Regions from separate parts of the Homo sapiens genome. Here region 1 is linked to region 2. Evidence: fine-mapped QTL for protein levels in blood plasma. A gene starts in region 2. The other region holds a variant in brackets. All regions are shown on one strand. Distances are from middle to middle.

Region 1 (16,532 bases), 74 kb after region 2:
TTTTTAATCTGCCTAAACATATTCCCACCCTTTCACCTAGCTAACTCTTATTCTTCTTTTAGGCCAGGGGTCCCCAACCCCCAGGCTGTGGACTGGTACAAGTCCATGGCCTGTCAGGAACCAGGCCAAACAGTGGGAGGTGCAGGAGGTGAGTGGCTGGCAAGCATTAACACCTGAGCTCCTCCTCCTTTCAGATCAGCAGTGCCATTAGACTCTCATAGGAGCACAAACCCTCTTGTGAACCGTGCATGCGAGGGATCTAGGTTGCACACTCCTTATGAGAATCTAACTGGCTCCTGATGATCTGAGGTGGAACAGTTTCATCCCAAAACTATTCCCCTCTGAACCCCACTGTCCATGGAAAAATTATCTTCCATGAAACCAGTCCCTGGTACCAAAAACATTAGGGAACCGATGTTTTAGGCTTCAGGTTAAGTGTCACCTCATTAGACAGGTTTACCTGGCCCTGAGGGTCCCCTTCCACAACACTCACCTATTTATAAAGCCTGCAGTTTTCACCACCAAGTGAAGCCTGTCCATCTTGTTCACTGCTTAGCAAAGTAATAAACAATTGCAACTGCATAAATGGATGGTCAGGTTTTGTACCCTCTCCTTTAAGTGATGAACTTCTACTCATCCTGCACATCCTCCTCACACTCCCAGCCCCAAGCTGGTTCAACTGCTCTTCTCTGTGTTCCAATAGCACATTTTACCTTCCCTATCATAGACTTCATCTTATTACATCATGATTCCATGTTTACTTATCTGCCACTCCATCTAGGATTTGAGCTCCTTGAGTTCCGTGGTCTTGTTTTATCATCTTTGTATCTCCCAAGAAGAATGCTTGGCATAGGGCAGGCTCTCAATGATGTTGACTTTATAAATCTGTTGTAAAAAGAGCCCCGGGAACCCTGAAAGTAGAGAGTAGGAAGTTGAGGGAGGGAGGCAATTTTAGATTTAGCTAACTGCCCTGAACATGGCATAGATGAATTCTTCCTGTCTAACCTATTTGGGGAAGTGGATCGAGAGTTCTGTGTCCAAGTGTATATTTGCATATTTACATTTAGCTAGAAAAATAAAAACTGCCCTTAGTACAGGAAGATGGGGAAGGCAGATAGCCTCTGCTCTAGGAGCTTAATCAGCAAGTCACCAGGGCTATTTTCAGAGCTTCCAGTGAGTTTTTGGCTATGCTAAGGGAGTTCACGAGCCACGTTTGGCAGCAGAGATTGGAGAAAGTTGTTCCACGTAAGAAATGAGAGGAATTCGGATTTTGCCCCTAAGAAGAAGACAACAATGAAGAGGGGGAAGGGGATTAGCTGAATAACATGCAAAGAGTCTGCACCCTGAGTTATGAAAATGATCAATGGATTTTTAAAAAGTCATACCAGAAATGTCTGTTGTTTAGTATTATTTAGTGTTTAGTGTTATTGCTATGATGTAAAGCTCTTCATTTCTTCAAAGCTTCCTAAGTTTTCCACATCACAGAAGCCTTGCAAGTATTTCTGCCATGTTCTCCACCTGGATGGTGGTGGTGTGGAACAGGGACAGTCACCAGGAATGGCCAGAGGACCCTGGATCGAACAATTCATCAGAAGCAGGAGCACCCTCCAGAAGTTTGTGGAAAACTTGAGATGGACATTAGACTTTGCAAACTCCAAAGGGTGATGCTGGTTCAAGGCACATTTGCCCTGACCTGAAGGGTCAATGTGACCACTTCTAGTCTTTATGAGCAGGGCTGTGTGTGTTTCAGTGGCAGTGTGTCTCTAAGAAGTGTGGGCTTTCATTGTCTGTATAATTAAACCCTGTGCTTGCAATTATCCTTGAAGGTATATGTGTTTATGTGCTGCTTTTGGAATGATATATTGATATGACTGCATGTTGAGTCCCTGTGGGAGAGGCTGCTAAATGGTCATGTGACCATACTTTTCTTCCTCACCTAGGAACACCAAGCCCCTTCGCACTCCATGAGAAGTAGAGGCCTTCCCGGGATCAAAACAGCACTCCCTCTCTGAGCCTCCCCAAGTAACATACACTACCTGCCCCATTTTCTCCTTCTCCTGCCCCTGCCTGTTTCCTTGTCTTCTTCCTCCAGCCCCAAGAATAGCTGAGGCTCTTAACTAAGAACAAGAAAACAAAAAATCGGGTCACCAGATGTGCTTCATTCCACCTCTCCCTCTCTAGCTATCCTCCCCACAAGCCAACGCATTCTGAGCATATATACAGCAAGCACCTGGCATCCCCCCAAACCCAGCTGTGCCTCTGCCTGGCAACAGACCCAACTCAGGTGGAAATTTGGGGTACCCCACAAGCATACCATATGGTTCATCCTGTCTCTAGCACTATGGTGCAGCTCTTTTGTTCTGCCTAGACAGCCTAAGCAGACCCCAGAATGATTTTTCCCATCCTGAATGAAAGGTGATATGTTGATGTCATCTGTACTGCCGGTCGCCTTCTCCCTGTGTAGACACTGCCTGTCTCAGTGTAGGAGGACAATGAGGTCTCCAGGAACAAGGTCCCCGTCCAGAGGCAGGAAGACAGAGAGACCAGCAGTCCTGCCTCAGCTCATGGGCAGGGTTCACTTGAGCTGGTCCCCACCTGGAGCCCAAAATGAGTGTCTTGTGCTTTGGAGTGAACAGACATCTGGGATTCTCATTGGGGACTGTTTACTGGTTGATTTGCATGGCACATTAACAGCCCACAGCAGCCCACTTTCTGCCAGGGACTTTCAGGAACCATTTCTCCAAGCCAGCGTGGCCCTGCGCGGGCATGAGCCCTCCCCATCCCTTCTTCCCTCCCCACATCAGCCACGTGGATGTGACTCACACAGGCTCTCTGAGCCCCTGCCAGCAGCAGCCAGAGGACTGCCTGGATAAAGTTGGGATGGGCTACTTCAGGAGCAGGGAACAGTCCAGAGTCCCTGTTAGAATTCCGTGGGCCTCCGTGCCCTCCTCCTACTACTACTCCCAGTGTCGCCTGCAGCCCAAACCTCATGCAGCAGCGTCTCCCTGATGCTTGGGCGAAAGTTCATCCTTTCCTATCTGCTTCTCTCCTTTCTCCCGTAGCACATACCACAATCAGGGACAACTATGTGAGTTCTCTTGGTTTTTCCCTGTGATATTATATAAATAACCCACACTTAAAGCAGAATATTCATATATATTATTTTGTTTTATCCTCATGATCACTCTATGAGATAATTGTTATATTTCCCATTTCAAAGAAGAAGAAATTGAAGATTGAAAGATTAAGTGAGGCAAAGCATAGAGGATGTTTAGGTAGTTAAACTACTCCGCATGATCCTATAAAGGTGGATACAATTCATTATACATTTGTCCAAACTCATAGAATGTACAACACCAAGAGTGAACCTTAATGTGAACTCTGGACTTTGGGTGATAATGATGTTAAAATGTAGGTTCATCGGGTTTAGCAAATGACTGTTCCTGTGGGGGATGTTGATAGTTGGGGAGGCTGTGTGTGTGAGGGGCAGGGGATACATGGGGAACTCTGTACTTTCTACTCAATTTTGATGTAAACATAAAACTGCTCTAAAAAAAAAAAAGTCTATTTAAAAAATGCCACTCTAGGCAATACAGAGAGACCCTGTCTCTTAAAAAAAAAAAAAAAAAAAATTAGCCGGGCATGGTCATGCACTTCCATGGTCCCAGCTACTTGGGAGGCTGAGGTGGGAGGATTGCTTGAGCCCAGGAGGTTGAGGCTGCAGTGAACTATGATCACACCACTGCACTCCAGCCTGAGCAACAGAGTGAGACCCTGTCTCAAAAAATAATAATAGTAATAATAAGAAATACATAAATAAATACTTATTTTTAAAAATTTTAAGTTTTAAGTTTTTTAAAAAGTTTTCCTTGATTCCCAGAGTTTCCCTTGTTCTAAATGTACTGCATGAGCTTCTGAATGTACTTGGAGATTTACCAGTACCTCTCCTTGCCAGTTGTAGCTCCTCACCCCAGCCTGTCATCTGTCTGCCCCACCCTCCTCAACCTCTGGACTATAAGAACTCTGAGCCTTGACTTAGTTGTCTCTGTATTCTTAGCTTGCGGCAGTGTCTGACACATAGTAGATGCTGAATAAATGTCTGCTGGGAGAATGCATGAATGAATGAATGCATGGAGGAAGAGGAAGGAGAGGAAGAGAGAGAAGAAGATAGTGGGAAGGAAGAGAGGAAGAGGAAATAAAAAACAGGAAAAGGAGATGGAAGAAGAAGGAGAGTGCAGTATAGGGTCGGAAAGAAAAAAGGCATCCCTTGATTTGATCTTATCCCCTTTGTCTTCCTGGGGACTGGAAGGCCCTTCTCAGTTCCTTTCTTTTCCCTCTCCTCCCAACAGGATAAGGACTTTGGCCACAGCCCTGCCTATCCCCCAGGTATCCCCATAAAGTCTTTAACCCTTAGATATAGAACTGCTCTGTCCCTTTTCTACAAAACAAATGTGTTATTTGGGCAGAAGAGGAAAGGAGAAAATTTGAAGTGGAAAAATCTTTGGTTTGGAAATTCAGCTGACTGCCCTCATTTGGAATAAAATGTCCTTCAGTCCCTGGCTGTGTGGCAGGCAGGCCCGGCCAACAGCAACACCGGATGCCGGGAGACTGGGAGGAGGCCTGGGGATTTTCAGAGGAGCCGCCAGAGTGGTATGAACTTGGAATCCAGGAAGAGAGTGATGGGGCTCATCTCCAAGGGCTGAATCCCTATCCTCTTCCTCATCTCTGTCCAGACAGTGGTCAGTTGTCCCGATGTGTCAGGCAGAGTGCTGTCCTGGGGGCACAGACAGGACCAGGAGAAGCAAGTCCTGAGGGAGAACAGGGGCTGGGTCTGTCTCATGTCCTGAGCACCAACCTCAGCATCTGACACATGGAAGGTACCCAAGAAACATCAGCTGGGAAAAAAAAAGTAACCCTTGTCCCGAGGGGTTGACAGGAGACCCAGACTTTGCACTCAGGTTGGTCCCAGCCTAATAGTGGAGACAGAACAGATATAAAGAATGCAGCTCAAAATCGGAATACCAAGTACAAATACAAATAATATAAACCAAGGGCTGACCTATCAGAGTAGCACAGCAGACTGGCTTGGGGCCAGTGAGGTGAATTGAGAGAACCTCCCCAAACAGACCATCCTAAGTGGGCCTCTGAAGGAGCAGATGGGAATTATTTGGCTGAAGCCAGTAGGATGAGTATCAAAGTGGGGAGTTCAGACAACATAAGAACAAGAAGAGCAGGAGGCTGAGCGGGGATGGGGCAGGTCTCCAGGGCTGGAGCAAAGCACAGCTGACCCACCCTGACTGGTGTCTGCAGATGTTGTAGAAGCAGCGCTTAAGTTTACACTGGCTTGCTGGTAACCTGGGTAGCCGGGGGGAAATATCACAGTATAGTTCACAGGTTGTGTCATAATCTCCCAGATTCATCATTTTCAGCCTTGGTTGTGCTTATGGGGCTAAGGGGTGGAGGCCTAGATTTGTAACAACCCAGAGACCAAACCCATTTCCACAAGAAAGTGCACAGAGAAGACAAAGGGAAAAACGTGGTAACAGGGAAGATGTCAGAGAGATGGGAGGCTGTGCAGAGAGGGCAGCACAGGCTGCCAGTTGGCCTCTCTTGTTTTGTTTTGTTTTGCTTTGCAGGAGAGAGGGAGGTTGGAAGCGCCACTGAGAGGAGTCAGAGGAAAGTGTAAGGAGACTTGTAAAAAAAGGTATGCAGGGTGCTGTGTGCTGCCTGATCCACTGTATGTGAGTTCTGGGTTTCAGCAAAGGCCATACAGACATTAAGGCTTCTGGAGCTGGGCTAATGCTTCCTTGGACTGTGATCCCGCTGAAATCAACTTTGGAGGAAAGGAAATGAAAAGGCTCCAATTTGTATCTTCCTGGGAGTAAATGTTTCTTATCCAATATCAATTCTCTCCTTCCTTACTTAATAAAACCACAATTTGTTACCCAGACAAAAGATGACCTTTCCTTTGCTCCCTTGCAGCTAGGAGTAGCTTCCAGTAGCAGGAGCCCCTGGAAGGTTTAGGGGAAAGTCTGGATTTCCTGATATGTACCCAACCCTTGCTTTTTGTCATTTTCTTTTGTCTCCGTCCTGCCTGGAACATGTGATCAGGAGGTGGTCATGAGGATGAAAGTCATATGTGAAGGATGATGGAACAGAGGGACTAAAGGAGCCTGCCCTGGACACCCTGATTTCCTGCTATGGGGAGTGAAAAAGAAGCCATAGTCCCATGGATTCTGTTACCAGCCACTGAGTGCAATCCTACCTGATCCCATGGTCCTCACCAAGGCTGTGTCTGCTTAGGAAATGGAGAATGGTCCCCAAACCACAGCAGCAAAAATGAGTGGAAGGGTTGAGCATTATTTCCAGCCTTGGTTGCTCTGGTGATTGGTGCCTGGGAGGGGCAGGACCTCCATCCAACAGACTGTACCAGCAGAGTCGTAAGAGGTAGGACTTTGGAGATTCAGCCGTATGTTCTATGGGTGGACTGAAGGCTGAAGGAGGAAGAGGTAGAAGTGCATTGCTACCGACCTACTCCATCCCACGTGCAGACTCCCTCGACCCCCAACCCCAGGCTGTCACCTGCTCCTATATTCATTTTCTCTGAGGTTGGAGGAAAGAGAAAGGAGACAGCAATGGCCAGACTTCCCTGGGGTTCCCAAACTGGTTAGTGTGCTCTGCTCAAGTGCTGGCTCCCCGCCCCTCTCTATGCACACACTCAGCCCATGTTCACTGATTCCCATCCTACCCTCCAGTCATTTGCCTAACTGACTTTTTTTTTTCCAGGAAACCTCAGAGATGCATTGGACTTGGTCAGCAGACTTGAGTTCTATGCCCATGCCAGTCACTGACTGGCCATGACCTGAGTTGGACAAATCATGCCCACTCTAGACTTAAGTTGTTCCTTATATGGAAAAGGAAAGGAGTGCTTTGTCAGTGGTTCCCAGATACCAATTTATAAAGATTTCACTAGTCTGTGGCAAAATAATATAACAATGGCTATGAATTACTGGGTATTTCCTTTGTGTGAAGTGGTTTTCATATATTAACTCATTTAATCTCATAACCACCTGGAAAAGTATGTATTCTTATTAACACCTTCACATGATAGATGATAAAACCAAGGCTCAGAGAGGTTAAGTAACTTACCTGAAGGTCTTCATATGGTAAGTGGTAGAGCCTGGATTTGAACTCAGGTATCCTGGTCCCAGAGTCCACGTACTAAATCACTACATTACAGCTACCCATGTGATAAGGAAAAAGTAAGGAGGAGGATGATGATGTGCATGCATATTGATACACACAGACATATAATACAGTATATTTGTGTACTGTTAGTGTAAGTTTAATACTGACTTTCTGGGGAAGGACAGGGATATATATCCTTTATGTTAAGAGTGAGAGAATAAGTCTTCCATATTTTTTACATTAAAAGGTACTTTTCTGAAATGATGACAGAAGGTGAGTATTTTATTTGCTCAACTGGCAAAATAAAACTTATCGACAACCAGTTACTTTTTACAGTATTTTACTTCCAACTTGTAATAGACCATGAAATTAAGTCTGGGAGCCCTGAGGCTACAGGGTCTTCGAAGTCCTTTCTGGCTTAAATAATGTAAGGCCTTCAACCTCCAGGTGAGGTGACTTAAGTCACACATTCTTGGAGACGTCCTCCCAGATATCAGGCACACCATCTGGGCCCCCTGGTCAGCCTAGCAGACGAAGAGCCATCACCCTGAGGGAACCTGTTTTGGTAACATGCCTGTTTAACACTGCAAGTATTTTGACCCATAAAGAAACTTTCCTGTCCCGCCATGGCCCCAGCTTTAGCTACACCCCGTCTGTACTTGTCTACCTCTTGGGATAAGTACCATATAGAGAGAGAATCTTAAATTACTCATTAGTTGGTAGAGATATTTTACTTGAAAGCAGATCCCAAACATAACCTCCTCCTGCCCAATCCTAAATCTCAGGCACCAAAGAAGACCAAGCTCTATCCTGAGTGCTACAAATGAGAAAACCAAAGGCAAAATTATGAACTATCTTGAGGATGTCTGTTCAAAGCAATTGTCCTCTACCTTATATGGATTCTGTCGGATCCTGGAGCAGATTAGAAACAGAACAGGTAGCACTGGGGGCAGTCCATTAGTGCTCTCTTTAAAACCAAGGTGGCAAACTCTTGTTTTGAAACTAACATAGAACAAGCAATTTGAGAGAAGGGAAATTGGTGTAGCCCAATGTTGTTATTTTTTTCTTATTAACAGTCTCAAAGTCCCTAGTGAAGGAGGGGAACATCCAAACAGTTAGCAGCCAGGGACATTCTTAGGAAGGACAGCGGAAGCCACAGCACTGCTTCTGCTGTGGGGTCTACATGCCTAAAACTGAGCAAAGAATTCGACTTGGTGGGCTGGACTCTGCCTCAAAAGTGAATGAAAACAAAACAAGACTTCAAGTTAGCATTTGTGGAAAGGGGAAAAAAACCATTGTCTGCCTTTCTGTCTCACGAACACAGAAACAAAACACTAATGAAGGCTCCCAATCTGGCAGAAATCTAAGGAATTAGAGGAAAAGGAACAAAAATAAACAAAAGGACACCAGACTTCAAGTTTCTCAAGCCAGATGTGACC[C/T]TGGAAACTGGTGTGATGAGGAAGAAAAACAGCTGTTGACTCAGTCATGTGATGATTCAATGATACAATTATTTCATCATCAAAAGAGGCTTTGATAACTTCGCCATTAGCAGTAAGAGTAAAAATAGAAAAAGAGGAAGGAGGAGCTCGATTTCAGCACTAATCTGATTCATTCGCTTTAAAAGACCTAGGCTTGAGGCCTGAACTGGTTATGGAATCTAGCTATTAAAAATGGTTCTATCTGGTGACAGAATTTTAAGAAATGCTGAAGTTGGCAAAGTGGATTGCTCTATTTAGCAAAATATTTTCAGCTATGGTGGTCCATTAAAACACCAAGAAAAAGAACAAAAGAACAAAAGAAACAAAAATCTACTGGATAGAGTTTGTATGAAATCCACAATCCTGCAGTTTGCAGGAGCGGGAATACACTTGCAAATCAATGTTGGAAATTTGCATTTTTCTGAGCTTTTAGTGGAATGGAGTGTTGGGGAGGGACTTTCTGCTTTTTATGGGTGGATCCAGTGAAATGATTGCTGGTCCTGATTAGAGGCCCATGGTTTCAATAATCTAGCATTCTCCCAACTGTGTCTTTAGCCTCTCCTTCTTTCTCTTCGGCCTACAAACAGGCTACAGAAAGTGCTGCCTGGGCTACACGCTTAGATGATCCCATCCTAAATACAACTTTCCATTGACTGGGGTCCCTTTCTAGCTATGGCTCTAGCAATCAGCTCTTCTTCCCAGACAAGTTGTTTGGGAGAGAAGTCCACACGCTAACCTGTTAGAACCGCCACATAAAATACATGATGCCCACTTGAACTTTAATTTCAGATAAATGACAAATAATTATTTCAGTTTATGTATGTCCCATGCAATATTTGGGACATACTTATTATACTAAAAATTTATTCATTGTTTATCTGAAATTCAAATGTCAGATAAATTGAAATTTAAGTGAACATCCTGTATTTTTATTTGCTAAATCTGACAATCTGACTCCTAGTATCCCTTCTTCACTTTCTATTTGTTGCTCAGCCCATGGAAACCTGGTTTTTGCCTCCACCTTTCATTGATACTGCTCTCCCCAGGCTCCCCAAGGACCTCTTACTGATCAAATTCACGAGGCACGTTTCCACCCTCCATGGCAGGGGCCTCTCTGGAGGACTCTGCAGGCACCGCTGGCGTCTCCGCTGTCCTGGTGAAGCTGTCTTCCCTTTTGGCTTCCATGATGCATTACACTGCTTGTTTTCTCCACCTTTCTCTGACTGCTCCTTCCCTGTTTCCTTCACGAGCTGCGCTTGTTAAGTCACCTCTTACATGTTCAATGCTACCCAGGGCACTGCCCTTTGGCCTTCCGCACTCTCTATACACAGAGCTGGATTTGCTGCTATATTTATCTCCCCACTCAGCCCCACTGGCCTCAGCTGCCCTGAGCAGCTCTGGCCTCCTCATCCATCATGCTGGGCACCAGAGGATGTCTTGCAGAGAAACCTTTCTGCCCTGGGCCTCCAAGGAGGGCTCAGCTATCAGAGAAGAGGGTCATTTTTAAAAGGGTCAGAGCACAGGACCCTCCAAGATTGATGGGCTATGAATTATGGATGTCGCAACTGTCAGTCCCAGTGCTCCAGAGCCAGAGAGGGTGTCCCTGCCTTCCGTCCCTGAGTTGGCCTCTTCTCTCCAGCATCCCCGTAGCATGTGCTCACTAAATGTGTTCCTGTATTGCTTTTTTACGTTTGTTGTCTTTTTGATGATCTTTATTTCTATGCACACACATACACGCTCAAGCACATCCCATCTGGCTGGGAGCTCTCTGAACCCTCCTCCATCACACTGTGCCCTGCTAGAGGGCAAGGACTGAAATGCCCCAGGGGAAGTGTTTGATACACAGGTGTGACTATAACAAAACAAAACACAACAAACACACACACACAACGATTTTTACCCTTTTTTTTTTTTTGAGACCAAGTCTTGCTCTCTCACCCAGGCTGGAGTGCAGTGGTGTGATCTCAGCTCACCGCAACCTCTGCCTCCCAGGTTCAAGTGATTCTCCTGCCTCAGCCTCCTGAGTAGCTGGGACTACAGGTGTGCGCCACCTCGCCCAGCTAACTTTTGTATTTTAGTAGAGATGGGGTTTCACCATGTTTCCCAGGCTGGTCTCAAACTTCTGACCTCAAGTGATCACCCACCTCGGCCTCCCAAAGTGCTGGGATTACAGGTGTGAGCCACCATGCCTGGTTGATTTTTACCCATTTTTAAAGTTGTAAGTGCTTTTGTATGCAATACTTTGGAGCAATCTCAGGAGTTGTTTATGTTGATTTGCTAGAAAGAGATACAGAATGCCAGGCTAGATTCAAAACTCCTGAGGATCTCAAGCAATAATAAGTGCACTTACAGAAATTAAAAAGAAATACCGCTGGAAACTCAAGGGCTTTTCTGGTGATCACAAAGATACTGGCAGATTTTTGTTGATAGGTAGGCCAAACTTAATCAGCTAGGGAAAAGAAAGAGGTACTAAAAGTTAATCACCAAAGCCAAAAAGATTAAACTTGTAAAGACTCAACAAGCAAGTAAACACATTAAATTTTCTGAATATGACTGAAAACAAATTATAGTTAACCTCTTAATACTTCACTGGGTATTTGAGCTGTTCTTAGGGATCCACTTTTATTTTGGTAGTACTGTATAATAAATGTTTCCCTAAAACCTACAGTTAATTTAAAAAATATCTTTGTTCCTCAACTTGTAATGACATAAGTACGTTGCATACCACAATTTTTCATTGAACATTTTATTTGTTGAAATTATCTTATATAAGTCAACTTCAGGTGATTTAGAAAATAAATGTGTTTCGAACATTTTTTAAAAATCAATAGCTTTTTTGTTTGTTTGTTTGTTTTTTGAGACAGAGTCTTACTCTGTCGTCCAGGCTGGAGTGCAGTGGTGCAATCTCAGCTCACTGGAACCTCCGCTTCTCGGGTTCATGCAATTCTCTTGTCTCAGCCTCCCAAATAGCTGAGATTACAGGCATGCACCACCACGCCTGGCTAATTTTTGTATTTTTTGGTAGAGATGGTGTTTCAGCATGTTGGCCAGGCCGGTCTTGAACTCCTGACCTCAGGTGATCCACCCACCTCGGCATCCCAAAGTGCTGGGATTACAGGCATGAGCCACCACGCCTGGCCCCAATTAGTAGCATTTTTATACACAAATAATGACCTAGCTGAAAAAGAAATAACAAACACAATCTTATTTGTGATATCATCAAAAATAAAATAAAATAAAATAAAATAAAATAAAATACTTGGGAGAAATAATCAAGGAGATGAAAGATCTGTACATTGAAAAGTATAAAGCATCAATAAAAAAACTAAAAAAGATATAAACAAATGGAAAGATATTCTGTGCTCATGGATCAGAAGAATTAATATTGTTAAAATGTCCCTATTATCCAAAGCAATATACAGACTTGACACAATTCTTATCAAAATCCCAATGACATTCTTCATGGAAATAGAAAAAAAAAATTCCTACAATTCATACAGAACCACAAAAGACCCCAAATAGCCAAAACAATTCTAAGAAAGAAATACAAATAGAAATCTTCCATTTATTATTCAGGGCTGGATTTGTATCTGGTCCTATAGGCACATTTAGGAAAAGAAACTTCTTCCGGTAACTCCTTAATGTGTGCTTCCAAACTACTTTTTGTGTTAAATTCTTACAGTTTCTGAAAGAAAACTGTTAATGATTAGCCATCCTGAAGGCATTCTGAAGCGTTACATTTCTTGATTTAACAATTACTTTAAAATATAGTAAAAGTTAAAAATTTAAAAATATAGTGAAAAATTACTATATATTTCAAAACCATAGTAAACAAAACAGTATGGTACTGACAGAAAAAAAGACATATAGGCCAACGGAACAGAAGAGACAGCCTAGAAATAATTTCAAACATATATGGTCAACTCATTTTTGTCAAGGGCTCCAAGAGGACAAAATGGGGCAAGGATGGTCTTCTCAATAAATGATGCCAGGAAAACTGGATTTCCACATGCAAAAGAATGACACTAGACCCTTATCTGACACCATACACAAAAATCAACTCAAAATAGATTTTTTTAAAAAAACCTAAATGCAAGATCTGAAACTATAAAACTCCTAGAAGAAAACATGGAGGAAAAGTTCCTGGACAGTTGCCTTGGCAATGATTTTTTTCATTTTCTTTTTCCTTTTTGGTAGAGACAGCATCTCCTTATGTTGCCCAGGCTGGTCTCGAACCTCTGGACTCAAGTGATCCTCCCACCTCACATCCCAAAGTGCTGGGATTATAAGTGTGAGCCACCACATCCAACTGGCAATGATTTTTTGGAGATCGCAGCAAAAGCTCAGGCTACAAAAGCAAAAATAAATAAATGGGGCTACATCAAATTAAAAAGATTCTGCACAACAAAGGAAACAATCAACAAAACAAAATAGCAACTTATGGACTGGGAAAAAATTTTTGCAAACCATATATCCGATAAGGGGTTAATATCCAACATTTATAAAGTACACATACAAATCAATTATAGAAAAACAAATAAACTAATTTTAAAATGGGCAAAGGACCTGAATAGACATTTCTCCGAAGAAGACATAAAAATGGCCAACAGATATATGAAAAGGTCCTTGACATCATTAATCATCAGGAAAATGTGAATCAAAACCACTATGAGATATTATTTTAGACCCTATAGGATGGCTATTATCAAAAAGTCATAGGGGTGTGGGGAAAAGGGAACACTTGTACACTGTTGGTGGGAATGTAGATTTGGTGCAGCCATCATGGAAAACAGTATGGAGGTTTCTAAAGAAATTAAAAACAGAACTACCAGAAGACCCAGCAATCTCTGTTCTGTGACTATATCCCCCCAAAATGAAATAACCACCTTTTTAAAATACCTGCACTTCTATTTTCACGCAGCATTCTTCACAATAGTCAAGATATGGAACCACCCAAGTGTCGATGGAGGAATGGATTTAAAAAACTGTGGCATCTGTATACAATGGAATATTATTCAGCCTTTAAAAAGAAGGTCCTGTCGTTTGGCACAACATGGATTAACCTGGAAGACACTATGCTGAGTGAAATGCGTCAGACAGGAAAAAAAAATAGTGCATGATGTCACTTACATGTGGAATCTAAAAACAAAATCAAATGTGCAGACGCAGATAATAAAACAGCAGTTACTGGGGTGGAAGCAGGCTGGGGAGGAATGGGAGGAAGAAATGGGAAGACGTAGGTCAGAGGATACAATGTAACAGGTGTGTGGAGAGATCTAATGTACACCATGATGGTTGTAGGTCATAAAATCGCACTGTACTTGGGATTCCTACTAAATGACTAGATTGTAGCTGCTCTTGCCACAAAAGCAACAAAAATGGGTAACTGTGCGGAGACGACAGAGATGTTCATTTGCTTTGCTATAGTAAATATTTTACTAACTATGTGTATCCTATAACAGCATGTTGTATACCTTAAATATACACAATAAATTTTAAAATAAATAAATAGGATTGAGCTGGGAAGGAGGAGAAGTTTTTCTGAGAGAAGAACCAGGAGGCTGTAAGGGAGAAGATGTCCTCAACCCAACCCACGGCGCTCTGATGCCCTTTATCCAGCAAACTGCAGGAACTTACTCTTGAGGAGGTTAGTCCTCCTAATTGTCCGATTCAATAGATATTTTTCAGTGCTTACCAGTTTGGACCCCTCTGATGCATTGGACCCTGTTGGTCCCTCTTCTCTGCTGCTGTTGTTGTTGCTTAAAAATAGTTTCATTATATAGCTGATGGCAGTAGTTCTCGGTGATGCTGTCATGGTACATTTTAGCAGAGGTGGGCGGTGAGGTAAAAATAGACAATCAGTAAGTAACATGGCTGGCAAGTGGTTATAAATGTTTAAAGGCAAATAAAGCAAGGAAAGGTGATAGAATGTTTTTGGTAATGTGACATTTGAACACAGACCCAAATGAAGTTAGGGAGAAACCCATGGGGACCGCCTAGGGAAGAGTGCCCCAGAGAAAGGGGACAGCATGTGCAAATGAACGAGGAAGTGTGCAAGAAGTTCAGGGTGGCAAAATCAGAGACCTGGGAGGGGTGGAGATTAGAAGATGAAGTCAGAGAATTAGTAGAAGTAACTAATCATGAGTGACCTTTCCAGCCACATCTGGCATCCAATCAAACCTTAACAGGCATACAAAGAGGCAGGAAAATACGACCCAGGGCCGGGCACAGTGGCTTACACCTGTAGTCCCAACACTTTGAGGGGCCAAAGCGGGCGAACTGCTTGAGCTCAGGAATTCGAGACAAGCCTGGGCAACATGGCAAAACCCCGTCTCTACAAAAAAATACAAAAATTAGCCGGGCGTGGCGGTGCGCACCTGTAGTCCCAGCTACTCGGAACGCTGAGGTAGGAGAATCGCTTGAACCCGGGAGACGGAGGTTTCAGTGAGCCGAGATCGTGCCACTGCACTCCAACCTGGGCGACAGAGCGAGACTCTTTCTGAAAACAAAACAAAACAAAACAAAAAGAAAATATGACCCAGAATAAGAAGAAAAATAAATTGACTGAAACAGAAATGATACAGATGCTAGAATTATGCGGAGCAGAATATTAAAAAGTGATAATATACTCCATGTGTTCACAAAGGTAGAAGAATGTATGAGCATGTTAAGGAGAGATATGGAGAACATAAAAAAAGACTGAATTAAATTCTACAGATGAAAAAATACTGGCCGAGATGAACAGCATCTTAGACACTCCAGAAGAAAAGCTTAGTAAACTTCAAGATACACTAGTAGAAACAATTCAAAATGCAGCGCCGAGAAGAAGTCTGGAAAAAAGAAACCAACAAAGCGTCAGTAAGCTGAGGAACAACATCAGATTGCCTAATATACGTGCCATCAGAGTCCAGAAGAGGGAGCAGAAAAAATATTTAAAGAAAGAATGATTAAAACTTTTCTGAATGTGACAAAACGATAAACCTGCAGATCTAAGAAGCTCAATGAACCCCCAAGCAGGAAAAAAAAACATGAAGAAAACTATATCAAGACACATCATAATTGAATTTTAAGAACTAGTGTTAAAGAGAATGTCCAAAAGCAATGAGAGAAAATCAACAGCAGAATTTTAAGAAGCGTTAAAGGAAGGTTTTTTTGCACAAAAGGAAAATGATGCCAAATGGACATTTGGATTTATACCAAAAAATAAAAGAAATTTCTGGAAATGGTAAATATGTAGATAAATATAAAAAAAGTTAAATTGAAATATCTAAAAGGGATAATTTATTGTTTAAAGCAAAAATAATAGTAATACATTGTGAGGTTTACAACATATATAGAAACAAAATGTAGGGCAACAATAGCATAAAATCTGGGAGAGCAGAAATAGAAATATACTGTTGTAAGGGGCTTATATTTTACACGAAGTGGTAAAATATTACTTGAAAGTAGACTATATAAATTAAAGGTGTGTAGTATAAACTCTAAAGCAACAAATGAAAAAAATGAAACAAGGAGGTATTGCTAATATGCTAATAAAGAAGATAAAGTAGAATCATAGAAATGATTAACCAATAAGAAGACACAAAAAAGGAAAAAGGGAATTAAGAAAAGATGGAACAAACAGGAAACAATTAACAGGATAATAGATTTAAGCCCAACTGTATTAATAATCACATAAAATGTAGTTAGTATTAACACTCTAATCAAAAGGCACAGATTGTCAGATTGGACTTTTTTTTTTTTGAGATGGAGTCTCCCTCTGTCTCCCAGGCTGGAGTGCAGTGGTGAGAGCTCAGCCCACTGCAACCTCCGCCTCCCAGGTTCCAGTGATCCTCCTGTCTCAGCCTCCCGAGTAGCTGGGATTAC
Region 2 (16,532 bases):
TGACCTAGGCCCCACTCAGCCCATTCTGTCGGGTAAAAGGCACAGGAGACAGGCTGGATGGGGTGGGCTCATGTGGGTGAGGTGTGAGTTCTCTGACTTCAACCTTAGAAGGTTGGGATATCCTCCAGCAACCTGTTCTTCCACAATCTGGTAGAGACCTATCAGCCATTTATTAATCAAGGTATCCCTTCTGTCTGTATTTTGGCCTCATAGCTTCCTGGGGGTAATGTGTTTTATTTTAGTGTGCTGTCTCCAGGGTAAAATTATACAGTCTTCCCCTTTTCCCATTTTTTTTTTGTAAGATTAAAAAAAAAATCCTCCCCTACTTCTTGAAATTATCCCAAATGAGTGAACGATCTATTCGCCCATTGTTGGTGTCGGTAGAGACACCAACAATCTCCATCTCATTCTTTGGTTTGGAACCTAAGGATCCCCAAATATCATTCTAGGGGTCCTTCTCTTTTCCCTCAATCCCTCTCTTCCCTTCTGCTGCTGCATCCCTTCTGTGAATGTAGGCTGATTTTGTTCAAGGACCAGAAAATATTATTTCACTTCTAAACCTTTCTGCTAATGCTCTGCTCCGAGCTGAAATTTTTGATTGAAGCAAAACTGCAACTTCCAGCCTCCTCTCCTGGGCTGCAATTGATACTCCAAGTCCAGAACCCTGTAAATGTCACTTAGGCAAACTCTTCCTTAAGTGCACCTAAACATCGCACCCTTCCAGATAGATTCAGAAAGCACCAGCATGCAGACCTTCTTTTCCTGACTGCCACATTTTTACCAGTTGCATACCCTGAATCAAAACCCAGGCTCAGGCTTGGGAAGAAGCATCTTCCCACAGGGGCAGGTTTCTGCAGAGGGCAGACCCAGGACATTTCAGGATAGGTATTTAAATGTCTCTGTTCTGTTTTTAGCAGAATGTCCAGGAGTATATTCCATGTCTACCCTACCTATAGATCCAGTTGCCAAGGAACTGGGGCTGAGGAAGAATGGAGGAAGAAAACCTATGACCCTCCAAGTATGGTATTCTGGGCACTTTCTCCATATTAAACTATTACATCCTCATATCACCTTTGTGATAGAAGATATTGTTACCATTCTCACTTTACAGATGAGGAAACTTCCCAGACTGGTCAAATATCTTTTCAAGGTCACCCAGATAGCAAGTGGCAAGGCCATGAATTGAAGTCCAGTGCCAAAGTGGATGCTTTTTATACCACCCCACCCTGAGTCTCCCTAGAGAGGGTGGAAGTGCTACACAAGCCAACCTCCTTGCCTTCGGCCCCGCCCCGGCCCACCCCACTCACTCTCGATGCTATTGTTGTTGAGGTACAGGTGTTCCAGCCTGTTGTTGATGGCGGGCACACTGCTGATCCTGTTGTGGGACAGGTGGAGCACAAGCAGGTTGGAGATATTAAAGGAGTTCTTGGGGAGTCCCCTGTCTGTCAGCTTGTTGTAGTTAAGCCGAATGAAGGCAAGATTGGGAAAGCTCTTGAAGTATCCGTTAGGGATGGTCTCAATCTTGTTACTGTCCAGGTAGAGCTGGTGAATGGCGGTGGGGACCCTGGGCGGCATCTTTCTCAGGATGTTGTGGGCCAGGTTGAGCTGCATGAGGTTCTTGAGGCCATGGAAGGTGTCGGGCTTGAAGACGCCGTCGCTCAGCCTGTTGTGCTGGAGATCCAGGAGCAGCAGGTTCTCCAGCTTGCTGAAGACACCAGGCGGGATTCTGGAGATGTGGTTCTGGCTCAGCCTCAGCTGCTCCAGGTTCCGGGGCAGGGCCGAGGGGACCTCTTCCAACTGGTTCTTCTCCATGTAGAGGAACACCAGGCCGGGCAGTTTCTCCAGCACCCTCTGGTCTATCTTGCGGATTCGGTTGTTGTCCAGGTTAATCCATCGCAGGCCTGTGGCATTCTGGAAGGACTCCACCGGGAGCTCAGTGATGAAGTTGTTCTGGAGATAGAGGTAATGGATGCGGGGCGGGATGACAGGGACCTTTCGCAGGTTGCGGCTATCACAGTAGAGGGCAGATGGGAAATCAGGGGGGCAGTAGCATTCGCGGGGACAGTCAGGGAAGATAGATGGAGGGCCTGGAGGGAGGGGAGGAGGCAGGTCTGTTGGCTCTGCTGGTTCATCAGGCTGAGGAAAGCTGGGTGTGGGCCTGGGCCTGGGCCTGGGTCTGCGCCCGGGCCCAGTCCCGGGTCTTGGTCGTCTTGTTGGCTGGCCTTGGGCCACTGAGGCCAAGATGAGAAGTGGGAGGAGCCAGCAGAGGGGTGACCTCATGATCCAGGTGATGCACCTGCAGGGAGAAGACACATAAGGTCATTATCCTTGGGCCCTCAGTAACTAGTTGTCATGTTTTTGAAGCCAGAGTTGGGCAGAACTAGAGCTCTAGGGAAGATGGGCAGAGCTCAGGGAGCTGTGGAAGCATCTCCTTGTTTGCCTGTACCCAGCAGGTAAGGGAATAACAAGGGCTTGAGGCTCTGGATTCCCTGGCCATTGGCTTAGCCACTCGATGTGTTGAGCCTGCTCTGAAGAGGGCGGGGGACATGCTGGTAGAAAGCACATTGGTGGCCAGGTGCGGTGGCTCACACCTGTAATCCAGCACTTTGGGAGGCCAAGGTGGGCAGATCATGAGGTCAGGAGATCGAGACCATCCTGGCTAACACGGTGAAACCCTGTCTCTACTAAAAATACAAAAAATTAGCCAGGCGTGGTGGCGGGTGCCTGTAATCCCAGCTACTTGGGAGGCTGAGGCAGGAGAATGGCGTGAACCCGGGAGGCGGAGTTTGCAGTGAGCCGAGATTGCACCACTGCACTCCAGCCTGGGTGACAGAGTGAGACTCCATCTCAAAAAAAAAAAAAAAAAAAAAAAAGGCACATTGGGGCTGGTGGGACAGTGGCATACAAGCCTGTAATCCCAGCACTTTGGGAGGCCAAGGCGGGTGGATCACTTCAGGTCAGGAGTTCGAGATCAGCCTGACCAACATGGAGAAACCCCATCTCTACTAAATACAAAAAATTAGCAGGGTGTGGTGTTGGACACCTGTAATCTCAGCTACTTGGGAGGCTGAGGCAGGAGAATCGCTTGAACCCAGGAGGAGGAGGTTGCAGTGAGCCGAGATTGCACCAATGCACTCCAGCCTGGGCAACAAGAGCAAAACTCTTTCTCAAAAAAAAAAAAAGAAAGAAAGAAAGCACACTGGACTCCGAGTCAGGAGTCCTGGGGCTTGTCAGAGAAGACCCTTAACCACTCTGGCCCTCAGTCCTCCCATTCACAGCATGAGAAAATCATCAGTGTCTTCATGAGAGGGATGTTAGGATGTATGAACCTTAGCGTCCTGGTTAAATCCAGAAAGGTCCTTAAAGATCCTATAACCTAGTGGTTTTCCAACTCTGCTTTCATTTCTGTGACATACCCCTGTGGGGAGGAGACTGAGGAGATGGCCCTGGGGTACCCTCAACCCATCCCTGTGCCAACCTCAGCAGCTCTCTTTAAAAAAACCTATTATATATATTGAGGTTTAGCCGAAGCATTCATTTGTTGAGGGGCAGGGGACACGTTTCTTTGCTAAAAATGGCTTGAAATCCACCAATCAACTCCAGACCCCACCATTTGCAAAAACTGAGGACTGGAAGGAAGAAGTGGCTCGCCAAGGCCAAGATGCTGTTTAACAGCAGATCCAGTCTGCACACTCACACACACACCTCTTCAGGTCCCATGCACATAAGCAAACTCACTCACTTATCCTCTGTGTGCGTATATGAGCCCATACGCAGTACACTGAGTATTGGAAGGAAAGAAGGAAGGCGGAAGGGAAGGAAGGCAGAGACTGTCTTTCTCCACCTCCCTCTAAGGTGGTCTCTTCCAAGGCAGGCCTCTCCAAGGAGGTCTGGAAGGCCATTTTCCCTGGCCTCCTATCACAAAGGACCTTGCAGTTAGGTTTTTGGCTTGATCTCCCGTTAAGGATATAACATTGTCAGAGATACATTGCAAGGGTTAAAAAGAGAAGGCATTAATTGCAAAACTTTAAGCTTGAGTCTTGTTGGCTGAACCCCACTTCACTTGTAATTGGTGAACTATGAATTAACATTGTGTAAGTTCTGTAATTTTCTGGAAAACAGAACAGTCATCTTGCATATAAATTAAGGGGGTAGTTAAAGCATTGGTATTCTAAAACAAACATTTCTAAAAGCCTCAATTTTTGTGACCCTGATTTAAAAAAAAAAATTTATTTTCTAATCACCCAGAAGCCTAGAAATGATCTAGAAATCTTTCATACTGTGAGAAGCCCTGTCCCAAGGAGGCTCCCAGCACTGGCGGGAGTTTTTCTATATCCCTTCATTGCCTTTGTCACCGAAAGCATATGCCAGGGACTGGGCACCAATTTGCCCAGGGCTTCCAGCAAAAGCAGTGAGGCACTGTGGCTGTGACCTGTGCTGGGCGGGGCGGGGTTTCCTTGGCTCAGTGCCAGGGCAGCCCTGGTCTTCATTGTCAGGGGTGAGAGGAACAGGCAGGTTACTCACAGCTCCACCCAGCAGGCTGGCTGTGCGCGCCTTCTCATCCACAGTAAACACAGGCCTTCCTCATCCCCATGTGCAGCACCAGACCCTTTGGGAACTTATCTTTTCACTAGTCCTCTGACCCGTTTACATTCCAAACCTCTGGGCCTAGCCAAGCTGCTCCCAGAGCCAACAGGAGGTTCCCCAGGAAATGCTCCCAGGAGCAAGTTATGTGGGGAAGCTGAGCCTGCTCTCCTCCCCTTCCCTCAGCCCCAGGGCTGAATCAGAACCATTCCAAGTGCAGGGATGCTTCTCTCTTAAGGAAATAGCATTCATTTCTAAGGCTTTTCTCATGGGGTGATGCCCCTTCCTGCCGGAGCTTTGCCATGAGGCAGGATGAAAAGTTCTGACAGCTGACAGCACAGCCATTCTCTCTGGCAGTGCTCCGTGATGTCCTAGGTCTCTGAAACCAGAATCTGTGTGACAGACTGAGGGTACCTGGACTCCATGGGTAGTCATAGTCCCTCCTACAAAGCCTCAGACCCACACTCTATGCTCCTGCCTTCTAGAAACTTCTGTCCAATCATAAGATTCCTTAGGATGGGTCCATGTGTGTGTTTTTAAATTTTTCTTATGCTTTCACAAGTGCACTTCTCCACCCACAGCTTTCTACTGGGCTCTGCTCATTGCTCAATCAGTGAAGGTTTGTTGACCACCTACAACAGCCAACTGCATGCAGTTCTGCTCTCCACCATCAGTTCTGGAAAAGCTGCTGCTTCACGGAAGAGAAAGGCAATTGCTTTGCCCAACCCAACATTCACTCTCCACATTAAAGAACGTTTCCTAAGAGAATCTTAATTTTTTTTTCTTTTTTCACTTTAAACAAAAATGAGATGGGGGTCTCACTGTATTGCTCAGGCTGGTCTTGAACTCCTAAGCTCAAGCAATCCTCCCACCTCGGCCTTTCAAATTGCTGAGATTACAGGTGTGAGCCACTGCACCCAGCCTCTAAGAGAGTTTTAAATTCTAATTTCAATTCCAACTATTGTGGATCTGGGCTTGACTCCTGGCTCTGACTCTCCAACCCGGGCTCCTCATCTGTGTGAGGATCAAATGAGATCATGCATTTGAAGGCATGTTATAAAGTGCAAAATCTCTGCAAGTGGCAGAGGCTTACTTACTCATTTATTTGTTTATAAACAGCAGATTCTCTAGAGAGACTCCTTGATTTTTTTTTTTTTTTTTTTTTTTTTTTTTTGGTGATACAGGGTCTCCCTTTGTTGACCAGGCTAGAGTGCAGTAGTGCAATCACAGCTCACTGCAGCCTTAACCTCCCTGGGCTCAGGTGATCCTTCCATCTCAGCGTCCTGAGCAGCTAGTACTATAGGCATGTGCTACCACAGCTGGCTAATTTTTGTCTTTTTTGTAGAGATGGGGTTTTACCATGTTGCCCAGGCTGGTCTCCAACCCCTGAGCTCAAGTGATCTGTCCTCCTCAGTCTCCCAAAGTGCTGGGATTACAGGCATGAGCCACAGCGCCCCAAGGACTCCTTGATTTTTAAAGTGAGATAGCCCCCTTCCCTATCTCTCTCATTAATTTAATGTTAAAACCCAGGAGTGGTGGAATGTTTCTGCTCAGGGCAGGGTTGGGTGGAAGTCCTGATGGGTTGGTCAAGTCATTAGGAGCAGCTATTTAAGGCTAATTGGCTTTGTATGGAGAGGTTGAGGTTGGGCTGGGAATGAGGTTGGGTTTGTCTCCCAGGGCTAGGCAGGGCTAGCAGCAGGGTTACGCCGCACTCTGAACTGGCATTCTTCTTACTTGTCAGATCTCCTGTCTAATTGGTCACCCCTAAGCCTCCATGCCTTGACCCAGAGCTACCCTGCAGTGGAGAATGGGGCTGCTTCTGACCTAGCGCTGTGCCGGTGAATGTCGGAACACCCCTCTCTCTTTTTTCCCTTCTTTCTGTTCTCAACCTAGGTGTCTGAAAGCCATCCTGCTCTCTGTATCTCTTCCTGTAGTCCAGAAGGGTGTTGGAAGCAGGGAGAATCAAGCAGTCTTTGCCAATTTATGAGCAGAGTTAGTAGAGGAGTGAGCCTGAGGCCCTTTCAAGGCCCCCATTAGGGCTGATGTGGTCCTGAGATAACAAAGGAGCCTTATGGGGGCATGATGACTTCAAGATGCCCCTTTCTAGGAAGGTGAAACGATACAAGGATGAGCTTGCCTGGGGCAGTGGGAGGAGAGCCTGTGGTGCATACTAGTTAGGAGAGAAGATTCTCACCCCTCCACCACTACCTAGTGATGCGAACCCTGTTCTGGGCCTCAGTTTTCTTATCTGTAAAATGGGAATAAAAAAATCTTCCCTATACCTATATTCCTTACCCAATTGTCAGAAGCAAGTGCAGTTAGCAGCTTTAAAATGCACTACAGATCAAAAAGTGCTAAAAATAAAAATAACACTATTATGGAGAGACCATCTGTCTCCCCAGTGTCTACCACAAGGCAAAGTGTAAACAGAATGAAGATTTTCTGGCCTCAGGCCACTAGTTTAGAAGAGAAAGTTTTCCATTCTGAGCGGTGGGGAAGAAACCAGGGTGAGACGACTCTTCTCTGACAGCCCGCCACCTACCATATCCTCTGCCCCATTCCCCCAGCATCTCCAAGCCTTGAAGAAAGCCTAGAAGAGTGTGTCTGATGCCTTGAGTGATTATAGATCTGAGACCCAATCCTGCAGTTCTTCATTCAGATGCTTAGCTAGGTAGGCTTAGGCAAAGCAATTGCTTTTCTGCTCTATAAAATGGGGATACTAACACCTTCTTTTCTGTTTTGAGGGTTAAATGAGTTAATACATGCAAAGTGAGTGTTTTCTGAATGTTAAGGTCTTGTTGATATTATTTCAAAGTAATGGGGTCTCCTTCCCTCCAGCCTGGCTAGAGGGCAGCCCCCATGCACTGCTCGAAGGCAGGGATCCTTGTGAGTGGGGTACCAGCTCTTCCACACAGAGCAACTTCCTCCCCTTTGTGGCTTGTGAGATCACACTTGGGTCTCAGAAACAACTAACTGAGGAGACTCTGGAAGTCCCCAGCCACCTAGGGAAAGCTTGTTCTGTCTTTCTAATTCACCAACTTCTCACCGATGCTTTCTGCAACAGGTGAGGGGACACTGGCCACAGAAGGTGCAAGTCTGCCTTCCTCAGTGGGCCATGGAGTTCCACTGCGATTCTTGACTTCTCCCAGCTTTTTGCCCCTTCCAGCCTTGAAATGCTTCACTCACATGCCCAATAAATGGGATTGCCCACTAGGGAGGTGGAGGGGGCATGAAGAAAGTGTTCAGCTCACCCTCTGTGAGAGCCCAGACAGGTGGCTGCTGGGAAGGAGGAGCAGGGACCTATAAGGGTCAGGGGAAGGGCCCAGCACATGCTCCTGGGGTCCTGGGGCAGGCAGATTAACAGGTGAGGGGAAACAGAAGCTCTGTGGAGCCATCTTGGGGGAACTTTCTTACTGGAATGTTCCTCTGTGGTATATATGGCTGCTTGTGCTTGCAAGGAGGAGAGAGGGAGACAGCTCTTCCCTGTTTACTCCCACTCCCCAAAAAAGAGGTGGCCTATTTGGGACACTCTGGTGCTCCTTTTCCAGGACACAGTCCTTCTGCCCAGCTAACACTGCCGGAGTCTTGGGCTTAAAAATTACAGCAAAGCTCTCTCTCAGGCCCCTGATTCTCGAGCCCTGGTGGACCATCAGAATCTCCTGAAGTATTAAAACAAGATTCCTGGGTCTCGATTCAGTAGATCTGCAGTGAGAGCCGACATCTGTATTTTTAGTAAGCCCTCCACACTCCTCCCTCTCCAGCCCTTAGGTGACTGTGAAGATCAGCTGTGTGTGGGACCCCTGATCTCCCTACACCCCGCCTGCCTTGGGACAGACCCTCTCTATTAATAGAGAGGAATGAGCAGGGGAGCAGGAGAGGGGCCGCCCTTCAGTTTTCCCCTCCCCAACTGCTTAAGGAACTGCTGCCTTTTTTTTTTTTTCTCCTCTGCCACAGGACCTTTTGCCAACCTAAATGGTTGGAATAATTTCAGAACGGCTTTAAAGAAAAATATTTTTCTGGCTGCCTGCAGGAAAAAAAAATAAAAAAATGAACTGTCCCCAGAGCTGGGAATTAGGACCTTCAAGGATTGGGAACTGGGTCGCTTTCTTCTTTCTTTCCAAAAGCCAAGTGGTTTGGACCAGTGAGACAGAAATTGAAAGCTGCTGAGAAGACACTGTGCAGGTTGGAAAAAGCCGTTTTTCTCTCCCTCCTACCCAGTGAAGCCCTAAATAATGAAGAAACCCTTCCAGCTCCCGCTCTTGCTTATCTCCTCCCTATTCGGCCTGGACTTGGGATGCAAGATTTTCTTCTGGCTCTGCCATCTCAGTGGGAAAACGTACTTTATCTTTGCTCTTACAGCTAGGGAGGTGTGTGTGAGAGGGCGAGAGACAAGATGCAGGGAACATGTGTGCATGCATGTGTGTGTGTGTCTGCTGGTGTCTGGTGATGATGTGGTCTAGCTCTGCATGTCAGATGCAGAGGGCAGAGGTGAATGGACAGGATGTCTTCATTTTGTATGGTCGTGTGGGGTGATGGTAGTGAACGTGCAGCCTCCGTGTGATGTGTGTGACTTCCACAATGTGTGACAATACACAAAAGGTGCAAAGAAATGGGTTCTGGAGTCCAGTTTCTATGGAAACACCTGATCTGTAGAAACACTTTGTGCAGCGTGGCTCTCTGTGCTACAACAAACATCTGCAGCAGGAAAGCTTAACTTTTGCAGTAAGCAAATATAGGGGTACAGAGTGATGAAAAGAAAAGGAAGAGGCTATAGGAAAGAAGTTAGGAAGACTAAATTTGAACTCATTTGAGAGGAGAAAGAGGTGGGAGGAAGGAAGGAGTGAGAGGATAGAGACTAGATCAATAAATGGACAGAGCTGGAGGAAACTTACTGGATGAAAGATTCTTCCCAGTCTCCTGCCCATCTCCCAACTGGGCTTACCTGCACACACCTGCCTCTCCTCTCAGCTCTGAGTTTAGTCCTCCTCTTCCACCCCCTCCCTTCGGCGGAGCTGTGGCAGCAGAGAGCCAGCTAGAAGATCTGATCTCCCAGTGGTGTGTGCGTGCTTGTGTTTGCCTGACTTTTCTTCCACCAGATCCTATTGGGGTGGGGAGGTTAGCTTGGGGGGAGGGAGGGGCAGATCATAGGGAGGGAGGGGAGGAGAGGAGGGAGGAGGGAGGGAGGGGAGGGGAGGAGAGAGGGAGGGAGCTTGGGAAAGGAGGAATGACAATAAAGTCTTTATTTGGCAGCCAAAACTCCCAAAGACTTCATCCACACACCATTCCCACTAACAGACTCATTTTTAATAACATTTCCTTCTGCTGCTGCCGCTTCTGGAGAGGGGTTGTTTGACCCATGTTTGGAAAACAAGCCAAATTAACAGAGTGAAAAGGCATGAAAAGCAACCTCTGTGTAAGCCAGGACTGGATGGCTGGGTCCAGCACTAGCCTGTTTAATTCCTCCTAACAATCGCCTTGCCTTCTGGGGCCGTTGCTCGGTAGTGTTAAATTCCTAAACCAGTGAGGGGTTTGGGATGCTTCCTCTGAGCAGTGACAGTCTTTCCCTAAGTTATCTTCTCCAGGAGGTTGCAAAGGGAGTGGAGTCTCAGGCTGGCATAGGAGATAACTTCGGTTTGGCTGCCAGGGCTGTTCTGAGAACCAGAGAGGGAGAAGTCTGGCCTGAGTTGCACAGCAAAGTTAAGGCAGAATTAAGATTTAATGTAAGACCTAAAGTCACTGTTCCTAGCTCATGTGGACAATGTAGTGGCTTCTTTCAGCTTCTCCATATCACACTTAGGTGAGATTTAGGGGCTGTGTGGTCATCACACAAAGTGATGGGAAATCCAAATTTCCCCTGTGCACATCAACACCCCAGAAGACCCAGTCAAGTAACACCACTACCTCTAACAATCCTCTAACAATGCCCCTCAATTAAGAAAGCACAACACACTTGCAGGTAAGTAGATGCCCATCAAAATTTCCTGCCATGGCCAGGCACAGTGGCTCACGCCTGTAATCCCAGTACTGTGGGAGGCAGAGGCAGGCGGATCACCTGAGGTCAGGAGTTTGAGGCCAACCTGGCCAACATGGTGAAACCCTGTCTGTACTAAAAATACAAAAAAATTAGCTGGGTGTGGTGGCGGGCATCTGTAGTCCCAGCTACTAGGGAGGCTGAGGCAGGAGAATTGCTTGAACCTGGGAGGCAAAGCTTGCAGTGAGCCAAGATCGTGCCACTGCACTCCAGCCTGGGCAACAAGAGCGTGACTCTGTCTCAAAAAATAAATAAGTAAATAAAATAAATAAATTCCTGCCATCCCAGCTGACTACTTAGAAAATGCAACGCAATTTTCTTCTCCATTATTGGTTCCATGGAGAGCTGCAGAGCCCCATGACAGGGGACTGCCTGCCTGCCCTCCGCAATATGGGGTAGAGGAGAGAACATTAAAATTAGGGTCTGCAGCCCTGGGCTCAGCCACCCACAAGCTATGGTCTTAGGTGAATCACTTGATCATGAGGACCTTCAGTTTCCTCATTTACAAAATATGGATAATATTGACCTCACAGGGTTGGGAAGATTAAATATTGTAAATGTGAGAGCACTTTATAAACTGGGAAGATATTAGGGTTTAGGAAAGGGATTGCGATGAATGGTAATTAGCCTAAGAAAAGGAGAAGGAAAAATAAAACCCAGACCTTTCTCCAACCCCCTTCCACCCCAGATCTCATGGCTTCACGCCCTGCTGGTGAGGTCTTGCTGGAAGACAGCACGGTTCCTCTCCAGGTTCACATTAACTGTGGCTCTGCCAGGCTGCTCATGTGCTTCATTTCTCATCCAGATGGGATATGGCGTCTTCTGCAGGCCGGGAACATCAGACGCCAGATTTGCTTGTTTCCCTTGGTATGGTGGGTGGTAGATGATAGAGGGCAAAAAAGACTGGCTGGGCACGGAGACTCATGTCTGTAATCCCAGCACTATGGGAGACGAAGGCAGAAGATTAATGGAGCCCAGGAGTTCGAGACCAGCCTGGGCCATATGGGGGGACCCTGTTTGTACAAATAATTTAAAAATTAGCTGGGTGTGGTGGTGTGTACCTGAAGTCCCAGCTACTTAGGAGACTGAGGTGAGAGGATTATTTGAGGCCAGGAGACCAAGGCTGTAATGAGCTATGATTACGCCAGTGCCCTCCAGCCTGGGTCACAGAGCAAGACCCTGTCTCAAAAAATAATAAGGTGAGCAAAGTACAGTGAGGTACAGGGATGATGGGTAGAGTGTCTGTGGGGATAGACAGACTGGAAGGAGTGTGGAGTATGGGCAGGGGCAGGGGTGTCACCTGTATCCATTTGTATGACAGCCATCCAAATCCCAAGAGTCTATGCTCTCGGGAATGGATGGCCAACTTCCAAGCCCTGCCTAAGCCAGTTATCTCCCTTCCTCCCTCTCCTATCTCCCGCATCCCACGCTATGCAGAGAGAATTGGAAAGAAGTATAGACATGGCCAGCAGGATATTCAGGAGTGTCCAGAATAGAGTTTGCTAATCAGTGGCTTGTGGACCTAATATGGCTTGAGTACCTAATTTTTTTTGACAGCACGTTAATTTTTTAAAAGTTTTGTGGAAATTTTAAAACGTATACATATTTACACAGTATAGTATTAATATCCCCATTATCTAATACCTAGCTTCAACAATTACCGACTCATGGCCAATCTTGTTTCTTCTGTGTTCCCCACTCCCACAAACCCTACTGGTATATTTTGAAGCATTGGTTAAAAAAAAAAAAAAGGATTTGAACACCTTTAGTCAGGACAAGCACTTCCCAGTTCAACACAGTCGCCATCCTGGTAGACAGGGGTCCAGGTTCTTGGGACCTGGCTTTGCCCCATTGCATGCTGTGTGACCTTGAAGATGTCTCTCTCCCTCTCTGACCTCAGTTTGCCATTTATAAAACACGAGGTTGTACCAAATGACCTCTCAGTGCTCTTCCAACAATACTGTGAAGAGAGAGTATAAGGTTTGGGGTTAGGAAACCTGGATTAAGATGTCAACTCTGCTGTTCTCTAGCTACCTGGTGAGTAGGTCTCAGCACACGAGCCTTGGTTTTCTCATCTGCCCCATCTCCCTCCCAGGGTATACCCAAGATAACACAAGGATCATTGGCAGCAATGGCAGGGGAGTATTTTGTGATTCACTGGCTTCATGCACCCTGGGACTATGTGGATCCTCCAGGAAGAGCCTCCTCTACTCTCCTAGAGTCTCAGGGACACCAGTGGTGTGTCTTCAACCCAGGGGAGGTATTTATCTCTTGCTGGTGTAGCCAGAGAACAGTCACAGGCACATGATGTGAATGCTGGGGCATATGGTGAGAAGTCCAGATATGCACATTGTTGCTGCTACTGCTGCCTGGTCCTAGGAGAGGGCTAGGGGCAGCATGGTTAGGAGACAGAATGCAGGGAGGGCCAGGCAGCAGAGGGAGGGGGCTCTCCAAGTTGGTGGGTTTCAGCTGCATTTGCAGAGTTGGGACCTGCCCACACTTCCCATCCAGACCGAAATCCATCTGGGGGGCTTACCATTTCTTTGACCCTCACAGTAATTGCTGCCTTGGTTACAAGCAGTGAGTGCTTAAAGCAAGAGAAGAAAGGACACAATTGTGTAATACTCTTTCCATAGAAGTACAGGAGGGAGGTACTCAAGCTTCCCACCTCCCCCGTGGTGGTCCTGAGACTTTGCCGGGAAGGAGCAGTGTGGGCCCGAAGAGTTTGGCTCAAACTGCTCAGTGGTCATCAGGACCCACAGAGGCTGGCCCTGGACGGACCCTCACCCTGTACTAGTTGAGGCTCCCAGTCCAGGGTGGGTGGGGTCTGGGCAAATGCATAACGGGGGAGAAGCTGTGTGAGTCCTGTGGCAGCCTGTCCCACCCTCCAGCCTGGGGGGCCTGGGTTGCCTGGGGTGAGTGGGCCCCTGCTGGGCAGAGACAGCATCCTGTTCATCATGGTATAACCCACAGCACCCACCAACGGCTTGGCACACCCTGGGTGCTCAGTAGGGGTCTGTTTCATTGAATTTAAGAGGGTTGAACAAGGAGATTCTCTGTCACCCTCTTTTTTTAAAAAAAGGTTATTATTTTTTGAATAGGTAATACATTCTCTTGATTGAAAATCTAAGAGGTATAAGAGCTTGCATAGGGAAAAAGTCTTTTCCCTTGCCTATCCCCTCATCACTCACTTTCCCCCAGAGGACCGTGCGCCAGTTTCTTGTGTCCTCACAGATTTATTTAAGGTACACACTAGTAACAAATAAGCAGCTATGCACTTTTATTTTCACTTAGTGGTACAGGTATCTTTTGAAGATGATCATATTGGTCCTTTTGGTGATTCTTTCTCTGCCCCCACCCCCCAATATTTATTTAGTTGACAGTCTCTCTTGGTGAACATTTGGGCTCCTCTTTTTTTTTTTTTTTTTTTTTTTTGTGACAGAGTCTCCCTCTTGTCGCCAGGCTGGTGTGCAATGGTGCAATCTCGGCTCACTGCAATCTCTGTCTCCAGGGTTCAAGTGATTCTCCTGTCTCAGCCTCCCGAGTAGCTGGGATTACAGGTGCCCGCCACCAAACCCGGCTAATTTTTGTATTTTTAGTAGAGAAGGGGCTTCACCATGTTGACCAGGCTGGTCTTGGCCTCGAACTCCTGACCTCAGGTAATCTTCCTCCCTTGGCCTCCCAAAGTGCTGGGATTACAGGAGTGAGCCACCTCACCGGCCTGGGCTCCTCATTTTTTTTTTTTTTTTTTTTTTTTTGAGATGGAGTCTCACTCTGTCGCCCAGGCTAGAGTGCAGTGGCACAATCTTGGCTCACTTCGAGCTCCGCCTCCTGGATTCACGCCATTCTCCGGCTTAGCCTCCCAAGTAGCTGGGACTACAGGCGCCCGCCACCACGCCTGGCTAATTTTTTGTATTTTTTAGTAGAGACGGGGTTTCACCATGTTAGCCAGGATGGAGACCTCCTCATTTTTAAGGTAGGCAGTGCTGGAGTTGGAGTCTCACAAACTTGGTTGCAGGCCTGGCTCTGCCTCCTCTCCATGCTAACGGGGCGGCCTTGGGCTACGCAGCCCTTCCTGAGCCTCAGTTTTCTCCTTTTATGTCTCAGGTATTCAAGGCAGTCCATCAGCTCAGTAGTGACAGAAACACAACTTTATCCTATCATTTCACTTCTCTAATTTCTGGATCCAAGTGCTCATTTCACCAGGATCGTGAAATACTCCATCTCAGTCCTTGGTACCCGTGGGGGGCCACCCAGCAGCTTGAGGCAGGTTTATGCAGTGGCAGCTCCAACGGGGATGGAGGGTGTCTGTGGGGAGGGGACGTACATGGCTCCTGGCTGATGCTGCTGTGGGGCACACCCTCCATCCCACCAGGCCCCTTCTGGCCGAGCAGCCCTCTGACATTTCCTAGGCTACATGTAGGGGACAAGAACTTTCTGCAGGAACTTTCCTCTCTGGAAACATGCTGGCTGCCTGGCACTCTGCCAGGGGCAGGCTCCCCGATTCCCTCTCTCAGGGCTCTCATTCTCCTCCAGCTCAACTCCTTTTACATGCACATTAAAGCCAGGGGCCCTTTTATTTTCTGGGGAAAGAAGTTTCCATGTTCCCCTTTCTTCTGGCCAAGACACTGTGTCTATGCCCAGAAGCCCCCAAGAACCTAGGCTTATGGAAAATGAAGCCAAAGGCACATGCGGGCGGCTTCTGCTTCCTGCCTCCCCACAGATCTGATCTGCTTGTTTCGATGAGAGGAAGGGACAGGGCAAAGGCAGCGGAGGAAGAAATAAAACTTATCTGTCGACCACACAGTGAGCACAGCCGGACTGGAGAACCCCTAAATCCCTCTGTGCAAATTGTCCGTGATCCTGTTGAGGGGTTGTCAGCTTGTGGACCATCTGAGCAGTCCTACAGAGAGTCCTACAGAGAGAGGGCTGTTGACACCTGGTGGGAAAGAGGGTGCTGATACACGAATGCTATAGACATGGCTTTTAGGCCTAAGTGCAAAGGCTACACCGTCAGCTGGTGTTAGCAGACAGCACTAGCCTGGGGCTGCTCAGTAAGCACTGCTCTGGGCTTCCCTAGGTCTCCCAGAAGCCAGGCTCGAGTGAGTGGTGATGGCATTTTGCCTTCCAAGGTGAGGTCCTCCTAGGTTCTGGGATCTCCCAATCACATCATCCTGAAACCCAGCCTAATTTAATTTTATGTTGTAAAAGTCACAAGTCACAGCAAGTCACAAGCACCTGGATCGAATATCCAGGTTCCAGGTATCATCCTGAGCAAGCTTCCAAATGCCATCCTGCTCCACGTAATAGACTATTGGGTAATGACACTGCCTCATACAGGCACAGTCCCACTGCATCCTGCGACGATGGCCAGTCTGTGGACATGTGTGGTCAGTTATGCCACATATTACAAGGTCTAGGAGGGCAGGAGCAAGGCAGCCCTGCCAGGGACCCCCACACATGACCTTGGGGGTCCCCACATCCATTTGTGCACCAAGCAACGTCTCTAAATTGAATAACAGTAACAATAATAAAGCCTCTTGAGAATTATTATAGGCAAAGCACCCTTCTTAGCCCACCCTTCTTAGCTCAATGAGGCAGGGACTTCTATAATACTCATTTAACAGGTGAGAGACTGAGGCACAGACAGTTTACATTCCAAAGGTCACAAATCTAGTAATGGCAGAGATAAGATTTGAACCCAGGTCGTCTTCCTATGATGTTCTTGTTTGTGTGTATGTATACTGTTGTGATGAATAAAATGCAGATTATTTAAAATCATCTTTAAATTCATGTAGCTTTGTGTCATTATGTATTCATACAAGTCCAACTATCATCACATACTTCTTTTTTAAGTTGAAAAGAAATCTTTGCACTTAAAACTGTTAAGAACCACTGATCTAGGTTTCAGTTACTC

Which allele goes with the higher level. Positions count from the first base shown, and alleles are read on the strand shown. Strength reflects both the effect of a copy and how common the allele is.
In carriers of allele C in region 1, the plasma level of the protein whose gene starts at base 9,659 in region 2 tends to be lower than with T alone (moderate association).

What was found. PIP is the chance, under the fine-mapping model, that this variant and not a neighbour inherited with it causes the effect. The UK Biobank Pharma Proteomics Project read protein levels with antibody pairs (Olink). The fine-mapping took linkage between variants from a reference panel, not from the people measured, so its PIPs are less certain.
Region 1: its variant is fine-mapped to the plasma level of the PRELP protein (UK Biobank, PIP above 0.99).

What each region holds. Positions count from the first base shown.
Region 1 is chr1:203,394,957-203,411,488 of GRCh38, reverse strand. It overlaps BMNCR (bone marrow associated non-coding RNA), which reads left to right and starts at 3,864. Exons shown (of 3, transcript XR_001738390.3): 1 at 3,864-4,958; 2 at 5,637-5,704; 3 at 6,112-6,756. It overlaps LOC102723529 (a long non-coding RNA gene), which reads right to left. Exons shown (of 7, transcript XR_922438.3): 6 at 13,566-15,496; 7 at 11,397-13,014. It also overlaps the pseudogene LARP7P1. RefSeq lists a silencer at 1,122-1,322. The variant C/T (reference allele first, on the strand shown) is at 8,628.
Region 2 is chr1:203,468,933-203,485,464 of GRCh38, reverse strand. PRELP (proline and arginine rich end leucine rich repeat protein) reads right to left here and starts at 9,659. Exons shown (of 3, transcript NM_002725.4): 1 at 9,527-9,659; 2 at 1,308-2,296. The coding sequence starts at 2,280.